Regions from separate parts of the Homo sapiens genome. Here region 1 is linked to region 2. A link means that fine-mapping ties the variant in region 2 to the expression of a gene that starts in the linked region. Tissue or cell type: pancreatic islets. Region 2 holds a variant in brackets; the other region holds the start of a gene. All regions are shown on one strand. Distances are from middle to middle.

What was found. PIP is the estimated chance that this variant, and not a neighbour inherited with it, causes the effect.
Region 1: it holds the start of NAGPA, and the variant in region 2 is fine-mapped to the expression of NAGPA in pancreatic islets (PISA, PIP 0.95).

What each region holds. Positions count from the first base shown.
Region 1 is chr16:5,031,886-5,037,031 of GRCh38, forward strand. NAGPA (N-acetylglucosamine-1-phosphodiester alpha-N-acetylglucosaminidase) reads right to left here and starts at 2,050. Exons shown (of 10, transcript NM_016256.4): 1 at 1,944-2,050; 2 at 1,388-1,843. The coding sequence starts at 2,029. It overlaps NAGPA-AS1 (NAGPA antisense RNA 1), which reads left to right and starts at 1,817. Exons shown (of 2, transcript NR_038913.1): 1 at 1,817-2,176. RefSeq lists enhancers at 1,287-1,788, 1,982-2,161.
Region 2 is chr16:4,774,594-4,779,739 of GRCh38, forward strand. SEPTIN12 (septin 12) reads right to left here. Exons shown (of 10, transcript NM_144605.5): 8 at 5,097-5,146; 9 at 3,493-3,544; 10 at 3,013-3,405. The coding sequence ends at 3,204. Among named protein-coding and RNA genes, the nearest start is that of ZNF500, 10 kb to the left of the region's middle. The variant A/C (reference allele first, on the strand shown) is at 2,696.

The sequences.
Region 1 (5,146 bases), 260 kb after region 2:
TGGATCCGGGGAAGGTGGGAAGCTCACTCACCAGCAGGGGCAACTGCAGATAGTCAGGCTCTTTCTCCCTAGCCATCCCAACCTGGCTGCTAGATTCCCCCTCATGCCCCAGGAACCTCCTGGGGCCTGAGTGTAGCTGGGACAACTTAACAGCCCTAGGAATCTCCCTGTTGTCAGAGCTGAAGCTGGACAGGGTTCTGACAATACAATCCCCACAAGCCTTTGCAAACAGTCTGTTTCATTTAACAGAAATGACCATCCCCCAACAGAGCTCAAATCCATCTATGGCCCTCAATCCCCAGGCCATACCCAGCCCAACTACCACTTGATCCCTGTTACGGCCCTTCATTGGCTTCCTTGTTTCTCCACTGCTCTCTCCCACCTGGTCCCACTCAGGATCAGAACAAGCTTTATCATCAACAAATACTTTTTTTTTGAGACTCAAATAATTTTTAAGATAATTTTAAATAATTCAAATCATCAATCTTGCCAGGGCGTGGTGGCTCACACCTGTCATCCCAGCACTTTGGGAGGCTGAGGTGGGTGGATCACTTGAGGTCAGGAGTTCGAGACCGGCCAGGCCAATATGGTGAACCCACTCCCCCGTTCCCCACCCCATCCCGTCTCTACTAAAAATACAAAAATCAGCCGGGCGTGGTGGCACACGTCCGTAGTCCCAGCTACTCCAGAGGCTGAGGCAGGAGAATCGCTTGAACCCGGGAGGCAGAGGTTGCAGTGAGCCGGTATCATGCCACTGCCCTCCATCCTGGGCAACAGAGCAAGACTCTGTCTCAAAAAAAAAAAAATCATCAGTCTTGATGAGTTGATGTTTCTGACACCCCACTCCTTTTTCAGTCCCTCATACACACAAGCCCCCCTGAGCCTCTGAGCCTTTGTGCGTGGGGTTCCTTTGGACTGAAACGCTCTTCCTCCAGTTCTGACCTTGGCTCACTTAGTGATTCATCTTCAAGTTCCCACTCAAAGGTCACCTCGGAGAGGCGTGTTCCAGATCACCCTCCCTAAAATCAACACTATTTACAACGGGTTCACCCCGTTGGTTGCTTTGCTGCACACACAGCAATCAGAATGTATGTTAGCTATTTACCCGGCTTTTGTTGATTTTTCTAGTAATGGGGGAGGGCTGTTAAGGCAAAGACTGTGTTGTTCACGGCTATCTCACCGGGGCGCGGCACATTGCCTGATACAAGCAAGTGCTCAATGATACTGGATGATGAATAAACTCTGCAAGGAAGCGATTCCTATCCCCATTCTGCAGAGGAGGAAACAGGGGCTCAGCTTGGTTAAGTGACTTGAACACGGAGGCACGGCTACAACCCAAATCTCAGGCCCTCTGCCCTCGACAGCACGGGGCTCCCTGCCTCCTCACCCGGTGACCAGGGTCCCGTCGCGGCGGATCCCGAACTGCGCGTTCTGCAGCCCCCCGGAGCTGCTCACCCGCCGCTCGTCGCTCACCACGTTCCCCAGGCACTCGCCCGAGTTCATGCGGAAGAAGCCGCCGTTCTGGGCGACACGGCAGTCGGCCGCCCGCGCCGTCTCCTCCACGGTGGCGCGTCGTCTCGCCGCGCAGCCGCCGGGTCCACCGGGCTCCAGCACCGAGAAGGTGCGCAGGGGCTCAACGGCCCGCGTCAGGTGGCCGGCCACCGCGCGGTCCCTGAAGTGCGACACGAAGGTGCGCACGGCCAGACCGCCGGCGCCGGGAGTCGCGGGAGGCGGAGGCCAACTCTCGTGCTCGCGGTTGCCGGCGCGCACCCGTGTGCAGTCCCGGGGGAGGCGCGCGCGCGCGCGTGGATAGGGCAGTAGCAAGTCGTCGTCGCGGGAGGCCCTGCGGGGACGGGCGGCCGTGAGCTCAGGGGGCTGTCCTCGTGAGCTCGGAGGACAGGGGGGACCCCCCGAACCAGGCTGGCCCAGGGAGCTGCACTCACCCCGAGTCGAGGCCGCCGGACGCTTCCCAGAGGAAGCCGAATAGTGCAAGCCGGAGGAGAAGCCAGCGACCCGTGGAGGTCGCCATATTGGACCGGGGCCTCGGGTCATGTGGGCTCGCCTCACGTGACTCAAGTCCCAGGGTGGCCGCTTTCAGCTCGGACTGAATTACCTGCGCTCTTTTCGGCTGGCGGGCTGGCGGGCGGTGCTGGTGATGTTAACTTTTTATCTCCAGGTAATCTCAAACCTACAGGAAGTTGCAAGGAGAGCATAAAGAACTCTCGTAGAACTGTTATTCATGTTTAGCAGTGGTTTAGGCTTGCCTGATTTACTCAATCATTTGTACTTTGTTTTTTTTTTTTCCTGAACCAATGGCAACCAAATTGCAGATGTCATGATCCTTTACCCCATACCTCGCCATGAATCTCCTAAGAACAAGGGCATTTTCTTAACCACAGGGCAAATATCATTAGGACAACTCCCATTGACATTTCTGTGATGTCATCCACAGCTAACCTTCAATTGTCCCTCTAATGTCTTTTTTTTTCTTTTCCTTTTTGTCCGCCCCTGACCCTGTAACCCAGGAGTTGCTTTTAGTTGTCATGTCTCTTTGATCTCTTCATCTGGAAGGCTCCTCAGCCTTTTGTCTTTTACTACCTTGACATTTTTGAAGACAGCCCAGCTACATGATTTGTGTGACTCAATGCAAAATGAAAACGTGGGGACACTTACTAAAAAACCCAGAAAACTATTAAGAATTTCAAGATGGTCAGAGCAAATGGTTGCAGCAAGCCAGGGACCTTCTGAGTGAGCCCATGAAGCTGGCCCTGAGTATAGAAGCCAGTTTATTTTGTAGCATGTACTTCAAGCTTCCTTTGAGAGGATTCTTCTCTTCAGGCCTCCTGTCCCAGTGCAGTGTCCAGGGTTGGGTGGTGTCTTGGTGCCAGTGCAGTGCGTGGGCCATTCCAGGAGCCACGGCAAGTCTAATTGGCTTGATACTGTTGCGGTCTTGCCAGTGCACCTTAATATAGCAGTTTCTCCTTGTCTGAACTAGTCCCGGGGTTCTTTGTCCTACCTCCAAGAAAACTAAGGAGCGTGGACACAAGGGTGGGGTTGGAGCGAACGTTTAATAAGGGAAAGAAGAAAGCTCTCCAAAGTGGAGACGGGAGTCCGAGTGGATTGTCGGGTTACAGCTGAATGCAAAAAGCTTTTTTTTTTTTTTTTTTTAAGACAGAGTTTTGCTCTTGTCACCCAGGCTGGAGTGCAATGGTGCGATCTTGGCTCACTGCAACCTCAACAACCTCTGCCTCCTGGGTTCAAATGATTCTCCTGCCTCAGCCTCCCGAGTAGCTGGGATTACAGGCACACGTCACTGCGCCCTGCTAATTTTTGTATTTTGGGTAGAGACGAAATTTTACCATGTTGGCCAGGCTGGTTTCAAACTCCTGACCTCAGGTGATCCGCCTCCTTCCGCCTCCCAAAGTGCTGGGATTACAGGCGTGAGCCACTGTGCCTGGCCGCAAAAAACTTTTATAGGACACTGCTCTCCTCCTGGTAACTGAGTAACTTCTTACCAGTAAAACTGCCTGTGCAGCTCCCCTTATGTTATGCAGCTGTGGGTATGTCTCTAGGCAAGTGCAAATCGCTGCTTCTCTTGTTTGTGTAACTGTGGGTTTGTTTTAGATAAGGCCCCCTCCTCCCTGTGCCGGTTTCCATGGAGCCCACTGTGTATATGCCTGAAAAGGAGAGGAAACTTTTTCCCGGGAGCCTGCTAATTATGCAAAGAACAAAGGGCTTCTGCGCTGGACCCTGTCTGCTTATCTCCGTGCAGGTCCAGCCTGAGTTTTTTCCCAGGTTGCTTTATTTTTGCCAGTTTCTATGACTTTTCAGGCAGGCCACTTCTGAGGTCAGAATTTTCCCCAACGGATTTTTCTTTTCCTTCTCCCTCACTACCACAGGTATGGGGGGACACAGATAGGGGCCAGGCCAGCCCCTTTTCATCCACAGTCAGCACTTCTGGTGCTTGATCTCAGGCCCCTCTTTGAGCCACTGCTCCTTTGAGCCAGTCCACGGTGAGGGTTAGTGAACTCAGTTAGAGAGTGTCCCCCCAAACTCATGTCCTTACCAGAACCTCAGAATGTGAACTTGTTTGGAAATTGGGTCTTTGCAGATGTAATTAGTTAAGATGAGGTCATTCTGGAGTAGGGTGGGCCCTGAATCCAATCTGACTGGTGTTCTTGTAAAAGACACAAATACACACAGAGGAAAGAAGCTCATATGAACACAGGCAGAGATTGGACTGATGCAGTCATAAGTCAAAGAATGCAAAGAAGGCTAGCAGCCACCAAGAGCTAGGAGAGAGGCGTGGGAGAGACTCTTGAGCTTTGACAGAGAACATGGCCATGCTGATGCCTTGCTTTTGGAAACTAATACAATTCAGGGACCTCAAAGGGGTCCCGGGAACAGCTCTGACGCTCCTAGTTCACTTTAACCATGTACAAAATGACTGCTCCTCCTAGAGGCTTAAATGACCAATATATTGATGTGAAGGGAGTATATCTTTCTGAGCTTTGCATTGGGCTGCTAAAAATAACCAGCAGAGGAGCCCAGGCCTGACGCCTACTCCCTGCCTCCGGAAGCGCTCTTTTTTTCTGCCTCAGTTAGGAGTTGCAGGAACAGGCAGTCTTTGGCAAGTTCTGACTTTGGTTTTCTCCCTACTTTGAGGTTTGCTACTCCTTTGCCAAGTTTTTCTAAGCACATAACGGGTGCCACAGAAATTCTGCATTTGAACAGAGCAGCCCATATCCACAGTTCTAGCCAAAGCTGCTAAGAAGCCAAGGGTTTTCTTTTTTGCTCTTCAGCCTGGAATACTTTTGTCCCCTCTTAGCATCCTCATTTGAGTTCTACCATCATTTGTGTGTTCAACAGGCTGAGCACCTCGTATGTGCTCCGTTGCAGCTGATCCCTGCCTTCATGGAGCTTAGCTTTTCAAGGGGAAACAGACATGAAACAGTTATGTGATGAATGCAAGAAGCAAAGGGCAGGACTGCGAGAGAAGGATGTTGCAGGTGTGGCAGGGAAGCCTCTCCAAGCCCCTTTAGACTGTGATTGAAGGAAAGAAAAGATGCGGCTGTGTGCAGATCTGGGCCAGAGCCTGAAGTGGGAAACAGCTTGGGAGGTGCAGCAGGAAGAGCCACCTGGTGGG
Region 2 (5,146 bases):
AGCACATCTTGCACCGCCCTTAATCCATTTAACCCTGAGTGGACACAGCACATGTTTCAGAGAGCACAGGGTTGGGGGTAAGGTCACAGATCAACAGGATCCCAAGGCAGAAGAATTTTTCTTAGTACAGAACAAAATGAAAAGTCTCCCATGTCTACCCCTTTCTACACAGACACGGCAACCATCCGATTTCTCAATCTTTTCCCCACCTTCCCCCCCTTTCTATTCCACAAAACCGCCATTGTCATCATGGCCCATTCTCAATGAGCTGTTGGGTACACCTCCCAGACGGGGTGGTGGCCAGGCAGAGGGGCTCCTCACTTCCCAGTAGGGGCGGCCGGGCAGAGGCGCCCCTCACCTCCCGGACGGGGCGGCTGGCCGGGCGGGGGGCTGACCCCCCCACCTCCCTCCCGGACGGGGCGGCTGGCCGGGCGGGGGGCTGACACCCCCACCTCCCTCCCGGACGGGCCCAGGGCTAATCTTAAACCTTGGGATGTGCTGTGACGTGGGCCAGTGTCTCAGCCAACTCAGATGTTGGTCGTGGGTGGTTTGAGTGCCCACGGGCTCTGGAAGCTCCCCAGTCCTGGAGTCAGCCTGCGGTGTGGGTGGAGAAGCTGGTTTGTGAATTCAACCAGCAGATCGCTGTAGGGCAGGCAATGCAGGGTCCGTTCTGTTCAGTCAGCAGCCCTGTTCTTACCACCTGCCATGCACTGGATGCAGGGATGAAACTGACATATCTCTGCCCTCACTATGTTTCCAGCCTAATGGGGGAGACTGACCAGGAAACAAACTAGGTGACACACACTCAGAGGGGGCAGTGAGTGGGTTGCCTGGGGAAGGCAAGGAGGGCTTCAGGGAGAAGGTGACTTTTAGTTGGAACAAAACTGCTACTCATTGTTGTCATTTGTTGAAGGCTCACCTTGCACCCAGCTTCCTAGATTAGAGGGGTAGCCCTTTCTTTTATTACCAAACTAATGACTAATGTAGCTTTGGCCCCCATGGTGTGGGATTCTGTGAAATCCATTTATTTTCTAGCTTTTTTGTTTTGTTTTGTTTTGTTTTTGAGATGGAGTCTCGCTCTGTTGCCCAGGCTGAAGTGCAACGGTGTGATCTCGGCTCACTGCAACCTCTACCTGCTGGGTTCAAGTGATTCTTCTGCCTCGGCCTCCTGAGTAGCTGGGATTACAGGTGCGTACCACCATGCCCGGCTAATTTTTTTTTTTTTTTTTTTTTTTTTTTGAGATGGAGTCTCGCTCTGTCGCCCAGGCTGGAATGCAGTGGCGGGATCTCGGCTCACTGCAAGCTCCGCCTCCCGGGTTCATGCCATTCTCCTGCCTCAGCCTCCCAAGTAGCTGGGACTACAGGCGCCCGCCACTACGCCCGGCTAATTTTTTGTATTTTTAGTAGAGATGGGGTTTCACCGTTTTAGCCGGGATGGTCTCGAACTCCTAACCTCAGGTGATCTGCCCGCCTCGGCCTCCCAAAGTGCTGGGATTTCAGGCGTGAGCACCGTGCCCGGCCTATTTTCTAGCTTTCTGGAGAGTCCCTGGGCTGTGGAGCTCACACATTCTGCAGCAGGTCCTCCACCCTGGACTGCTGCTCCATCTTGATCATGTAGCCTCTGTCTTCATGCCATTTCTCCAGGTTGTGGTCGGCACATCCTAGGGAGTATTTTATTTTGTCTGAACAACAGTGCTATGTGCTTGGTACCATGATCCCCATTTTACAGATGAGGAAAGTGAGGCAAGGGGAGCATAAGTAACTGACTTGCCTGCTGGGATTTTCACACTGGCATTGCCAGGCTCCACAGTGGGAGCTGTTTGCTGGCCATGCTGGCCCCTGGGGCAGGGGAATGAGGAAGGTGGGGGATGGTGGAACACAGAGATCAGGTAAGACAGCCAGAGATCAGGCCACAAAGATGGGGATTTTGAAAGTGTTCTTGGCCTGTGGGCCTAGCCCCGGGCCAGGAGTAAGGGGCTGGGACAGATGGGAGAGCTGATTTTGTCACTTGGGTCTGGCTCTGGGGCAGAGGGGGCTGGTTGTCCAAGGCATGCCTTCCCAGGCCTTCAAGATTCCTAGGGCCTTGGGTCTCACATTATTCAAAAAGAAACCTGGGTGCTGTGGCTCATGCCTGTAATCCCAGCACTTTGGGAGGCTGAGGCAGATGGATCACTTGAGGTCAGGAATTTGAGACTAGCCTGGCCAACGTGGTGAAACCCCGTCTCCACTAAAAACACAAAATTAGCTGGGCGTGGTGGTGGGCACCTGTAATCCCAGCTACGCGGGAGGCTGAGGCAGGAGAATTTCTTAAACCCGGGAAGCAGAGGTTGCAATGAGCCCAGATCATGCCACTGCATTTCAGCCAGTGCGACAGAGTGAAACTCCATCTCAGAGGCTGAGTGCAGTGGCTCATGCCTGTAATCCCAGCACTTTGGGAGGCCGAGGCCGGTGGATCACTTGAGGTCAGTTCAAGACCAGCCTGGCCAGCATGGTGAAACCCCATCTCTACTAAAAATACAAAAATTAGCCAGGCATGATGGTGTATGCCTGTAGTCCCCAGCTACCTGGGATGCTGAGGCAGGAGAATGACTTGAACCCGGGAGGCAGAGGTTGTAGCGAGCCGAGATCACGCCATCGCACTCCAGCCTGGGCAACAAGAGCGAAACTCCATCTCAAAAAACAAGACAAAACAAAA[A/C]AAAAAAAACCCCAGAAAACTCCATCTCAGAAACAACAACCAACAACCACCACAAAAACATACTTGGTTGGCAGCAGTGGTAATCCCAGTGTTTTGGAAGGCTGAGGCGGAAGGATCACCTGAGGTCAGCTAAAGACCAGCCTGAGCAACCTAGTGAGGCCTTATCTCTACAAAAAAAAATGGTAAAAATCAGCCCATCAAGGTGGTGTCATGCCCATAGTCTTGGCTACTTGAGAGGCTGAGGCAGGAGGATCACTTGAGCCCAGAAATTTGAGGCTGCAGTGAGTCATGATTGCGCCACTGTACTCCAGCCTGGGTAACAGAGTGACACCCAGCCTTTTTATTTGTGGATAGCTCAAAGAAGTCATTTACAAAATGCCTTTTGTTTTCAAAGCACAGCTTTTCATAAAAAGCAAGGCTCACATTTAATAGATGCTCTGGTACATAGGTGTGTGTTGAGAGCCGCTGGGGACTCAGGAAGCCCAGCAGCCCCGGGATCCGCCGGTGGTCAGAACTCATCATCAGAATCGTCATGGGCCCCCCTGCAGACCTTGAAGGTCCGGGGGGTGGTCAGCTGTCCTGGGGAGGCCGGGGCCAGGTTCACCCAGCCGGGCCCGCGGGGCAGCAGGTGGCTTTCATTGAGTCTGATGACGCGGTAGTTCTCATAGTGGATGTTGTGGGTTATGTCCTTCAGGTCTTGGAGGTGGGAGCTGGGGGACCGGAGACGGTCAGCCCCGATGGTGGTGTCCCCAGGGCCCCTCGCCAGCCCCCTAGCCCCAGGCTCCCCACACCCTCACCGGATAAGCAGGTCTCTCAGGAGAGGAAATTCACAGTGCGCCATGTTCTCCACTGCAAGACATGGGACTCAGTATGGGCGCTGCTTAGTGAGCACTGAGTAAGTGCCTACTGTATGCACCACCTGACACCATTTCCCTTAGCCCTTTTCCCACATTTCTCTTTACCCTATCCTGCCTTCCCTTTGTTGGTTCATTCATTCATTCACCCACTGTTGTGTTCCCAGTGCCTGGTACAGGCGGCTCCTACAAATAGCTGTAGAATGAATGAATCCACCAATCATTATTGTATTATATGTACACTCGGCCTCTGTATCCATGGGTGCCCACTGTAGGACTTGAGCATCTGCCGATTTTGGTATCCCTGGGGGTCCTGGAACCACCCTCTGCGGATAGCATGGGTGCTATATCATAGGCAATAGTATAGTATATTTCTGGCTGGGCGCGGTGGCTCACGCCTATAATCCCAGCAGTTTGGGAGGCTGAGTTGGGTGGATCACCTGAGGTCAGGAGTTTGAGACCAGCCTGGACGACATAGTGAAGCCCCGTCTCTACTAAAAATACAAAAATTAGCCGGGTGTGGTGGTATAATCTGTAGTCCCAGCTATTTGGGAGGCTGAGGCAGGAGAATCGCTTGAACCTGAGAGGCGGAAGTTGCAGTGAGCCAAGATCGCTCCACTGCACTCCAGCCTGAGTGACAAAGCAAGACTCTGTCTCAAAAAAATATATATATATAGTATAGAATATTTCTAATAATTATAATAATACATCACCTGACCGGGCGCGGTGGCACACGCCTGTAATCCCAGCACTTTGGGAGGCCGAGGCGGGCAGATCACGAGGTCAGGAGTTTGAGACCAGCCTGGCAACATAGTGAAACCCCGTCTCTCATAAACATACAAAAAATTAGCTGGGCGTGGTGGCAGGTGCCTGTAATCCCAGCTCTTTGGGAGGCTGAGACAGGAGAATCACTTGAACCCAGGAGGCGGAGGTTGCAGTGAGCCGAGATCACGCCACCGCACTCCAGCTCGGGTGACACTGCGAGACTCCATCTCAAAAAAATAAAAATAAAAAATAATAATAATACATCAGGGGCTACATCCTCGCTGCCCCTCCTGTGTCACTTTCCCTAGCTCCCTAAGGCAGTCTCCTCTCCCTCCCGCCACAATCGCCTTCACTGTGCCTCCCCGACCTGTCCTTGTCCTGTCAGCTCTATGGGGACAGGGACCCTGTCAGTCCTCCCTTTACCGTGCACTGCAGTAACTGCACATAGCGGTGCCTGATACACAGTAGGCCCATCGTAATTTCCGGCCAGCCACTAGGGCAGCCTTGGGTATTGGGCATTGTGCAAAATGGTGGTTCTCCCCGCTCCAACACCCTAGGAAGTTGATGCACTGTGATGCCCACTTTACTGTGAGGAAACTGAGGCCCAGAGGGTCCGGAAACTTGCCACAGCCTCCCAGCTGGAAAGAGGGACCATTCCCCAGGGCTCTTTGTCTAGTGGGCTTCACCTTTCTGTGCCCTGTGATGGGTGCGAAGGTTGCCCAAGGCTGCTCTGGTTTCCAAACTGACCCCACCTGCATCCTACCCAGGGGCCCCGCACTGACCTTCAATGATGCCCCACTTGGTCTTCCGGCCCAGGACACACCTCCCGTTC